Regions from separate parts of the Homo sapiens genome. Here region 2 is linked to region 1. Evidence: fine-mapped expression QTL. A gene starts in region 1. The other region holds a variant in brackets. All regions are shown on one strand. Distances are from middle to middle.

Evidence for each region.
Region 2: its variant is fine-mapped to the expression of SMIM24 in whole blood (TOPMed, PIP above 0.99).

The regions. Positions count from the first base shown.
Region 1 is chr19:3,477,229-3,482,598 of GRCh38, forward strand. It overlaps SMIM24 (small integral membrane protein 24), which reads right to left and starts at 3,297. Exons shown (of 4, transcript NM_001136503.2): 1 at 3,169-3,297; 2 at 1,590-1,701; 3 at 1,191-1,250. The coding sequence starts at 3,235. It overlaps SMIM44 (small integral membrane protein 44), which reads right to left. Exons shown (of 2, transcript NM_001395954.1): 2 at 4,882-5,370.
Region 2 is chr19:3,500,982-3,506,351 of GRCh38, forward strand. LOC105372245 (a long non-coding RNA gene) reads left to right here. Exons shown (of 4, transcript XR_936262.3): 4 at 1-70. FZR1 (fizzy and cell division cycle 20 related 1) reads left to right here and starts at 5,330. Exons shown (of 14, transcript NM_016263.4): 1 at 5,330-5,370. RefSeq lists enhancers at 4,705-4,754, 4,805-5,064. The variant G/C (reference allele first, on the strand shown) is at 2,135.

The sequences.
Region 1 (5,370 bases):
TGGACGGGTTGGTGAATGGATGGGTTGGGGGATGGGTGAGTGGATGGATGGATGGATGGATGGATGGATGGATGGATGATAGACAGATGGTGGGTGGATGGATGGTGGGTGGGTGGATGGGTAGGTGATGGGTGGATGGGTGATGAATGGATGGGGGGTGATGAATGGATGGGTGAGTGGGTGGATAAGTGGTAGGTGAATAGATGGGTGGGTGGGCAGCTGGGTGAGTGAACAGATGGGTGATGAATGGATGATGGATGGATGGATGATGGATGGATGGATGGTGGGTGATGGATGGATGGGTGAGTGGGTAGATGGGTGAGTGGGTGGATGGGTGAGTGGGTGAATGGGTGATGGATGGGTGAGTGGGTGGATGGGTGAGTGGGTGGATAGGTGAGTGGGTGAATGGGTGAGTGGGTGGATGGGTGAGTGGGTGGATGGGTGGGTGATGGATGGATGGATGGTGGGTGATGGATGGATGGTGGGTGATGGATGGATGGGTGAGTGGGTGAATGGGTGAGTGGGTGGATGGGTGAGTGGGTGAATGGGTGAGTGGGTGGATGAGTGGATGATGGATGGATGGATGGTGGGTGAGTGGGTGAATGGGTGAGTGGATGAATGGGTGAGTGGGTGGATGAGTGGGTGATGGGTGGATGGAAGATGGAGGTCTGCATCCCTGAGTCCTCTGTGGGAATCCTCAGGTTGGGAGGCAGTCAGAGCCATAGGAGGCACTGAGTCCAGGTGGGTCGCCCATACCTAGGCCTTGTACAGACACCTACACAATCCTACACCACAGTCTTCTTCAACAGGTATTTATTAAGCACCTCCTGTGTTCCAGGCCCAATGCTGGGTATGAGGACACAGCCAGGACAAAAGCTAAGTTGCCTACACAACTGGAAGGCACCACGTAATGTCTCAAAATTAGTGAACAACTAAGACAGCTCCACTGGTGATAAGCATGAATCAGACTTGGGGCTGGGGACAGTGTCAGGAAGGCTGGTGGCCAGGCTGGAAACCCCTGACTAGGGACTGGAGGAGGAGAAGGAGCTGCCAGAAGATACAGGAAAGGTGAAGATCCCAGGGCAGGAATGTGTTTGAAGGATTCAGGACAGCAAGGTCATCTGCGCACACCCATTCCCCCACCCCGAGGAGGGGTTCACACAGACCCCCAGCATCCGCACGCATAGTACCTCTGGTCCTGGTATAGGTTGGACTCCATTCTGAACGTGGTCTCCTCCTCGTCCTCAGCCCTGCAGAGATAAAGGGAAAGGTGGAAGGGGGCGGGAGAGGAGAAAGGGGGCGGTAAAGGGAAGGAAGCGGTGTGACAGCCTCAGCCTCTGTCCCAACCTCCCAGCCGGGGCTCATGAACCCCAGGACGCAAGGAAGGGCTGGGCTGCCTGGCTCGTTGTCTTGGGGAGACGGGCGGGTGCAAGCCCGGGATCTGGGCTCTGAGAGTAGAGGTTGGAGGAGCAGCAGGGAAATGGGAGACCTTCGGACTTTGAGGCTGGTGATGGGGGTACCAGAGAGGGTTGGGAAGCTGGGGGTGGGGGCAGGGCTGTGGGGGCAGCGGGGTGGGGGCGGGCACCCACCTGGCCTTGGAACACCAGAGGCGGTTGGCCAGCAAGACCAAATAGACGATGAACAGGAAGCCGACTACCGCAGCCAGGCCCACCAGCCACGGCTTCAGGCGATGCTCCGTGGCTGCAGGAAGTTGGGGAGGTTCGACTCAGAGGAAGAAAAGGTCAGAAGACCCCCTTCCCCCACCACCCTAGCAAGGAGAGAGAGAAGGTCACTGGGGGTGCTCCGACAGAGGGGGTATTGGAAAGGGACGGAGCTTCAGAGACCTGGATGGCGTAGGGGGGTCGGGAGGGTTTAGAGAGGGGGAGGGTACCTTACCAGAGTGGGAGGGAGCCTGGGGGCCCAGAGAGGGGAGGGGCTTATAAAAGAAGGGGGGCTTAGAGGGGACGGAGTTTACAAATCAGGAGGGCTCAGAAGGGGCGGGGCTTATAATGCAGGCAGAGGCTCAGGGGGAGGGGCTTATAAAGGCGGACCTCAGAAGGGCGGGGCTTATGACAAAGGAGTGGCTCAGGGGTGGGGTTTATAAAGGAGAACAAGCTCAGGGGAGGGGCTTATGAAGGAGGAGGTGGCTCAGATGGGGAGGGCTTATAAAGAAGAGTCTGGGGGGTTGGGGCTTACAACAGAGGAGCTGTTGGGGGGAGCTTATAAAAGGAGGCAGAGGCTTAGAGGGAGGGGCTTATAAAGGAGGAGCTCAGAGGGGAGGTGCTTATAAGGGGAGAGGGTCTCAGAGTGGGAGGGGCTTATAAAGGCGGCAGAGGCTCAGGAGGAGGGGCTTATAAAGAAGGAGGAGCTCAGAGGGGAGGGGCTTACAACAGACGAGGGGCTCAGGGAGGGGTCTATAAAGGATGAGTGAGAAGGAGGGGCTTACAGAGGAGGAAGAGGCTCAGATGGGGAGGGGCTTGTGAACTAGGGGGCTCAGAGTGGGAGGGGCTTGTAGAGGAGGCAGAGGCTCAGGGGGAGGGGCTTATAAAGAAGGAGGAGCTCAGAGGGGAGGGGCTTACAGAGGAGGAGGGACTCGGGGAGGGGTTTATAAAGGAGGGAGAGTGAGAAGGAGGTGCTTACAAAGGAGGAAGGGGCTCGGATGGGGAGAGGCTTGTGAACTAGGGGGCTCAGAGGGAGAGGGGCTTATAGAGGAGGCAGAGGCTCAGGGGGAGGGGCTTATAAAGAAGGAGGAGCCCAGAGGGGAGGGGCTTACAGAGGAGGAGGGGCTCGGGGAGGGGTTTATAAAGGAGGAGGAGTGAGAAGGAGCGGTTCACAAAAGAGGCGGGGACTCAGATGGGGAGGGGCTTGTAAAGGAGGCCCGAGCTCAGAGTGGGGCCGAGCTCAAGGCGGGGGGTTCAGCCAGGTGTGCTCAGAAGGGCTGGAGAGGGGAAAGGCTCGGGTGGGCGGTGGGGGGTCCCTTACAGAGGAGGGCAGAGCCCAGCGAGAGGGAGGCCGGGCGGTACTGCGGGGGTTGAGAAGGGCCTCCAAGCCACTCTTCCTTTTCTTCCTGCCCCCTCTCCTTTTTCTCGCCATGGAAAATTGGGAGATGGTGATCACCTGACCAACTCCCCTATCCCGCGACGCCCCCTCCCGCCCCCCTGCACCTACCCTGCTGGGCCTCCACCGGGGAGAGGAGCAGAAACTCCAGCACCAGAAGGGCCCCCAGGGTCTCCATGACGGTCGAGTGAGCCAGCAGCCAGCCAGCGGCGGTCCCGGGTCGGCGTCCACAGGTTTGGTGTGGGCGAGGCCCTGCCTCCCCGTGATAAGGCACAGGCGGTCCCCGGGCGGGGGATGCCTGAGACCTGGGAGCGGGGCCCGCCCCTGGCACCACCTGATTGGGCATCCTGCCCCTCCCCTGCCAGCTCCTGCCCCATCGCTCTCCCTCCGGGAGGCCAGACTCTGGACCTGTGTAACAATTAACTGAGGGAGTCCCTCCTCCCTGCACCCTGCCCTGGGGACCATCAGCCTCAGGGCCACCCCTTTGTGATCCCTGCTGCAGGGGCTGAGCTGAGATGGCTGCGACCTCCCGTCCCGGCCCAGGCCCCGTGCCACTCTGGACACAGGGGGAACTCACAAATACAACTGGAATATCTTAAGAAGGGTGCGCCCACCCAGTGCCTCACACCTGTAATCCCACTACATTGAGAGGCCAACGCGGGCAGATCCTTGAGCCTAACCTGGGCAACTTAGTCAAGCCCTACCTCTACAAAAATAGAAAAATTAGCCAGGCGCGGCGGGCACCTGCAGGCCCAGCTACTAGGGTGTGCTGAAGTGGGAGGATCACTTGAGCCCAGGAGTTTGAGGCTGCAGCCAGTTATGGCCGCACCACCGCACTCCAGCCTGGGTGACAGAGGAAGACCCTGTCTCAAAGGAAATAAAAAAAATTAGAAATACAAAGAGTTACCAAGGCTGGGTACAGTGTCTCACGCCTGTAATCCCAGCACTCTGGGAGGCTAAGGCGGGAGAATCGCTTGAGGCCAGGAGTTCCAGACCAACCTCCTCCCGTCTCTAAAATAAAAAATGTAAAACTTAGCTGAGCATGGTGGCCTGCACCTGTAGTCTCAGCTACTCAAAGAGACTGAGGTGAGAGGATCGCTTGAGCCCAGGAGTTCGAGGCTGCAGCGAGCTACGACTGCACCACTGCATGCACCACCGCACTCCAGCCTGGGCAACAGAACAAGACCTTGTCTCTCAAAGCAAATTTGAGAGTCACCTTTTGTGCTCTCAGAGTACACATGAGGCTCCGTGCTCGGCAATTTCACAGATCGCATTTCCTTTTCTTAACACCCCGTGAAATGGTGCCGGTCTCATTGTGCCCAGGAAAGTCAAGGTCACGCAGCAGGTCTGACCTGGGATTTGAAGCCGGGTCTGCCTCGCCCCCAGCTTATCCTGCCTCGCCCAGGCTCTTGGCCCCTGAGGACCCACAAGCAGCCATGGGAGCACACAGGGACAGGGAAGGTGTGCAGAGGCCACATGCCCGTGGTCCACCTGCAAACCGGGACGCTCTCACGTGGGGATGCCCGGGAGCGTTGATGACTCAGGCTCCAGGCTCTCCTGTCCTCAACCTTGGTCCCTCGGCTGATTAGATAGTGGGCCCTGCCCGGGCGAAGGGGGACCCCGCCCCAGCTGACACGGGAGCAGCCATGGCCCAGACGAGTGGTAGGAAGGCCCGGCGTCATCGCACAGGTGTTTATGGAGCGCCTGCTGAGTCGCTGTCACTTCCTCTCTTCCGGAGGTCTGCGGATGACCGCTGAGCAGACCGGCCACTCAGCAGGATGGGGCTCACACATCCCAGCCCCAGGATGGCCACAGGTCTGCTTGAACCAGCCAGGCAGGCATCTATTAAACTCTGACTGTGTATCCCGTCTTGTGCAGGGCTTGGAAGAGAAGGAGGCCTTGGTGCTGTCTGGGAGCTCTCGATCTGATTAGGAAGTCAGGACCACCCCCCAGAGACAAGCAAACCCAGCAGCCGAGGCGGGGGCTGGAGAAGATTTGGAGGTAGGGGAGCCCAGCAGAGGGGGTGGGGGCAGGACCCGCCTTGGAGATCCTGCCCTCCAAAGTCAGTCAGTTGTCTGGGCTTTTTCTGAGAAAAGCACTCTGTGCTCTGAGACCTTGGCGAAGCCACTTCATCACTGCGTGCCTCGGTTTCCCCATCTGTTAAGTGGGGGCGATCAGTCCTACCTCGGAGGATTAAATGAGATACTGCATAGAAAAAGCCTGCTCTGCACAGCAGCAGGTACACGCTAAGCACTCGGTAAGGTTGGCCGATAATATTACAACGTTTTAAATCGCCCTAGTGTTTCTAATTCA
Region 2 (5,370 bases), 24 kb after region 1:
CCAGAGGTGTTGGCCAATGGGCTCAGGGAGCTCGAACCTTAAGTAGGTGAGGAATAAAAAAAGGAAGAAATGCAGTCGTTCATTCATTCATGTATGTAATAAATAGTACATGGCCTTGAGGACAAGAGAGCCTTCAGCCCTTACCCTCGTACGCCTCCCAGTGTTGTTATAGAGACAGAAAATAACACGATAAGTAAATGCAATACCTATTAGATGGTGAAAAAGGCTAACGAGAAAAAATTCGGTAGCCAAGGGCGGTGTATGTATAGGGTGTGCAGTTTCAGGAAGGGTGGCCAGAATCTGAGGTGGTGACATCTGAAGAAAGACCTGAAAGAGGCCGGGTACGGTGGCTCACACCGGTAATCCCAACACTTTGGGAGGCCGAGGTGGGTGTTATCACTTGAGGTCAGGAGTTCGAGACCAGCCTGGCCAACATGGTGAAACCCCCATCTCTACTAAAAATACAAAAAGGCTTCAGCTTCCCGAGTAGCTGGGATTACAGGCATGCAACACCACACCAGCTAACTTTTTGTATTTTTAGTAGAGACAGGGTTTCACTATGTTGGCCAGGCTGGTCTCAAACTCCTGACCTCAGGTGATCCACCTGCCTTGGCCTCCCAAAGTGCTGGGATTACAGGCGTGAGCTACTGTGCCCTGCTTGCAATCTCTTATTTTTAAAATGTGGGTGACTGCCAGGAGTGGTGGCTCATACCTGTAATCCTGGCACTTTGGGAGGCTGTGGGGTGAGAGGATGATCGATTGAGCCCAAGATTCCAAGACCAGCCTGGGCAATGTGGTAAGCCCCCGTCTCAACAGAAAAAAAATTTTTTTTAATTTGGCTGGGCGCAGTGGCTCAGCCTGTAATCCCAGCTACTTGGGTGGCTGAGGCAGGAGAATCGCTTGAGCCTGGGAGACACAGGTTACAGTGAGTTGAGATCCTGTCACTGCACTCCAGCCTGGGCAACAGAGCAAGACTCCATTTCCAAAAAAAAAAAAAAAAAATCAACTGTGCCTGGTGGCTCATGCCTGTAGGCCCAGCTACTCAGGTGGCTTGATAGCTTGAGTCCAGGAGTTCAAGGATCCAGTGAGCTGTAATCACACCACTGGATTCCAGCCTGGGTGACAGAGCAAGACCCCATCTCAAAAAAAAAAAAAAAATGAGCAATTAATAAAAAAACATGGCTGGGCATTGTAGCTCACGCCTGTAATTCCAGCACTTTGGGAGGCCAAGGCAGGTGGATCACTTGTGGTCAGGAGTTCAAGACCAGCATGGCCAACATGCTGAAACCCCATCTCTACTAAAAATACTAAAATTAGCTTGGCCTAGTGGCGGGTGCCTGTAATTCCAGCTACTCAGGAGTCTGAGGCAGGAGCATCACTTGAACCCAGGAGACGGAAGTTGCAGTGAGCCAAGATCGCGTCACTGCACTCCAGCTTGGGTGACAGAGTGAGACTCCATCTCAAAAAAATAATTAAATAAAAATTAATGAAAAAACATAAAATGCTGTGCATAGCAAAGAAATCCTTTTGGAAGGCCAACTTCTATTTTAAGACAACATTCACAAATACTTATTGAGCAACTACTGTGTGCTGGACAGTGTCCTGAGCACAGAGGATAGTGTCCTGGGCACAGAGGACACAGGACAAAACAGACACAGTGTCTGGCCTCATGGAGCTGACACCCCCACTTTTATTTTTTTGAGACAGAGTCTCGCTCTGTCACCCAGGCTGGAGTGCAATGGGGCGATCTCAGCTCACTGCAAGCTCCGCCTCCTGGGTTCACGCCATTCTCCTGCCTCAGCCTCCCAAGTAGCTGGGACGACAGGTGCCCACCACCAAGCCCAGCTAATTTTTTTGTATTTTTAGTAGAGACGGGGTTTCACCGTGTTAGCCAGGATGGTCTCGATCTCCTGACCTCGTGATCCGCCCGCCTCGGCCTCCCAAAGTGCTGGGATTACAGGCGTGAGCCACCGTGCACGGCCCACCCCCCCTTTTTTTTTTTAAATTATTGTATTGCCTTCCTATGTGTTGGAAAACTGACTGCAGATAACAGGCATCACTGCAGCCCTCAGCTGCCTTGCGAGGACGTCATCTCAACATGTTTGTGGCTCAGGCTGTTTACGGAGGACTTCCC[G/C]TGGACCAGGAGCTGTGCTGACTCAGGAAGGCTACGAGGGCAGGGTGCCAGGTGTGACTGGCCCCAAGGATGCTCCCCAGGAGGAGATAATCCCAGGGTGCAGGACGCAGATATCGAAGCCTCAGCCAAAAGCAAGGCCTGTGTAAGTCAGAGAACTTGGCATCTGGCCTCTGTAGACCTTCGAGAAACTGATAGCACAGAAGAACCAAGTCTGCGTCTTCTGTTCGGTGGGTCCTCTGGGATTGAGCAAGTCCCTGGGGGGCGGAAGTCTGGAATCCAGGTATCTGCAGATCTGTGGCCTCTCTGGAGGCTCCAGGGGAGGATCCTTCCTGCCTCTTCCAGCTTCTGGGGGTGGCCGCCAGTCCTTGGTGTTTCTCAGCTTGTGGCTTCGTCACTCCAATCTCTGCCACTGTCATCACCTGGCCTTGACCCCTGTGTGTCTGTCTCTGTGTTTCTGTGTTAGAATCTCCCTCTCCTCTCCTTTTATTTTATTCTTCTGAGACAGAGTCTTGCTGTGTTGCCCAGGCTGGAGTGCAGTGGCGCGATCTCAGCTCACCGCAACCTCTGCCTCCCGGGTTCCAACGATTCTCCTCCCTCAGCCTCCCGAGTAGCTGGGAATACAGGGGCCTGCTACCATGCCCGGCTAATTTTTGTATTTTTAGTAGAGATGAGGTTTCACCATGTTGGCCAGGCTGGTCTTGAAGGCCTGACCTCAAGTAATCTGCCCACCTCGGCCTACCAAAGTGCCGGGATTACAGCCGTTAGTCACTGCGCCCAGCTCCTCTTTCAGATCTTTATTAAAACATCATCTTTGCAATAAGAGCATCCCCGAGCACTGCATCTGAAACTGTAACCTCTTGCCTCCTCCTTTTCCCTGTTCTCTTTTCTCCTTAACTCAGCTCCAAAGGGGATTTTTTTTTTTTTTTCTGGAGTGCAGTGGTGCAATCTCGGTTCACTTCAACCACCGCCTCCCGGGTTCAAGGGATTCTCCTGCCTCAGCCTCCCGAGAAGCTGGGATTACAGGCGCGTGCTACCACGCTCAGCTAATTTTTGTATTTTTAGTAGAGATGAGGTTTCGCCATGTTGACCAGGATGGTCTCGATCTCTTGACTTCATAATCCGCCCTCCTTGGCCTCCCAAAGCACTGGGATTATAGGCGCAAGCCACTGCGCCGGGCAAGAACTTTTTAAATAACAGCTGTATTGAGATATAGTTTACATACTGTACAATTCATCTGTGTAAAGTGATAATTCAGTGGTGTTTAGTATATTCAGAGTCGGGCAGCCATCATCACATAAATTTTTTTTTTTTTTTTCCGAGACGGAGTCTTGCTTTGACACCCAAGGTGGAGTGTGGTGGCATGATCTGGGCTCACTGCAACCTACACTTCCCGGGTTCAAGTGATTCCCCTGCTTCAGCCTCCCGAGTAGCTGGGACTACAGGTGCGCGCCAGCACACCCGGCTCATTTTTGTATTTTTAGTAGAGATGGGGTTTCACCAGATTGGCCAGGCTGATCTTGAACTCCTGACCTCAAGTGATCTGCCCGCCTCAGCCTCCCAAAGTGCTGGGATTACAGGTGTGAGCCACAGCTCACGGCCATCACATCAATTTTAGAACATATCCATCAACCCCCCAAAATAAAGTCCATTCCAGTCACTCCTGATCCCCCTCTCCCAGCCCTTGGCAACCACTAATCCACTTCCTGTCTCTATGGATTTGCTTATCTGGACATTTCGTATCAATGGAATCACTCACTATGTGGTCTTTTGTATCTGGCTTCTTTCACTGGGCATGATGCTTTCGAGGTTCATCCAATCTGTAGCCTGTGTCCGAGCCTCATTGCCTCATATTGCAAAACACCGTGTCATTGTATGAATGGAGCATTTTCCCTTCATCTGTGGATGTACATTTGGGTTGTGTGCACTTTGTGGATGTTATGAATAAAGCTGCTATGCACATAGGTGTGTGAGTTTTTGCGTGGATGTTACATGTTTGTTTCTCTTGGGTAGATACCTAGGAGTGTTACTGCTGTGTCATGTGGCAATTCTATGTTTAACCTTTTTTTTTTTTTTTTTTTTTTTGAGACTGAGTCTTGCCCTGTTGCCTAGGCTGGAGTACAATGGTGCGATCTTGGCTCACTGCAACCTTTGCCTCCCGGGTTCAAGCAATTCTCCTGCCTCAGTCTCCCCAGTAGCTGGGATTACAGGCGCCTGCCACGATGCTTGGCTAATTTTTCGTATTTTTAGTAGAGACGGGGTTTCACTATGTTGGCCAGGCTGGTCTCGAACTCCTGACCTCAGGTGATCCACCCACCTCCACCTCCCAAAGTGCTGTGATTACAGGCGTGAGCCACCGCGCCCGGCCCATAATTTTTTTAAAAACCTGTTTTTTGTTTTTTTTTTCAAGACGTAGTGTTGCTCTGTCACCCTGGCTGAAGTGCAGTGGCGCAATCTCGGCTCATTGCAACCTCTGCCTCCTGGGTTCAAGGGATTCTTCTGCCTCAACCTCCCGAGTAGCTGGGATTAACTCCGTACCTCAGGTGATCCGCCCGCCTCGGCCTCCCAAAGTGCCGGGATTACAGGCTTGAGCCACCGCACCTGGCCTAAAAACCTGTTTTGTTCCCTGCTGTCTCACTGGGGCCTGGAGGAGCAGCACTTAGGAGCGCAATGCAGGTTTGTTGAATAAATTAATGACTCTCAGCAGTGACGTTTGTACGTTCGGGACACGCACCTGGTGTTGGGTCCCATCTGCGCTCATTAGGCGCGACGTCAATGCCGCACTGAGGTGTGCCTGGCTTCGATCTACCCTAGGAAGGGTCTGCCCTGGGGCGCCCCATTCCGCGACTGTCCCCAGTGGGAACCACGCCCTCCATCTACCAGAGCCATTTCTGCAACGTCTAGCACCCCGCGGGTCCTCTTCCGGCCGCGGTTGCCCTGGGCAACGCGTGGAGCCGCGCTTCCTGTATTGATTTGAATCGCGGGAGACGTCACGTCCTCCCGAGATGCCCAACGCGCGCAGGCGCAGCCACTCGGAGTGGGCAGGGCCTGGCTGGGTGTTGGGCAGGGCCTGGCGGTGTGTGGGGTAGGCGGGGGGCGTGGCCGCGATTAGCCGCGCGCGGCGTGGGGGCGTGGTCGGGTTGCGGGGGTGCGCGCGGCCGGCCGGGCGCGCGCGGCGGAGGGAGGGAGCCGGGAGGCAGCGGAGGAGCGACCGCCGCCATATTAGGGACCGCGGAGCC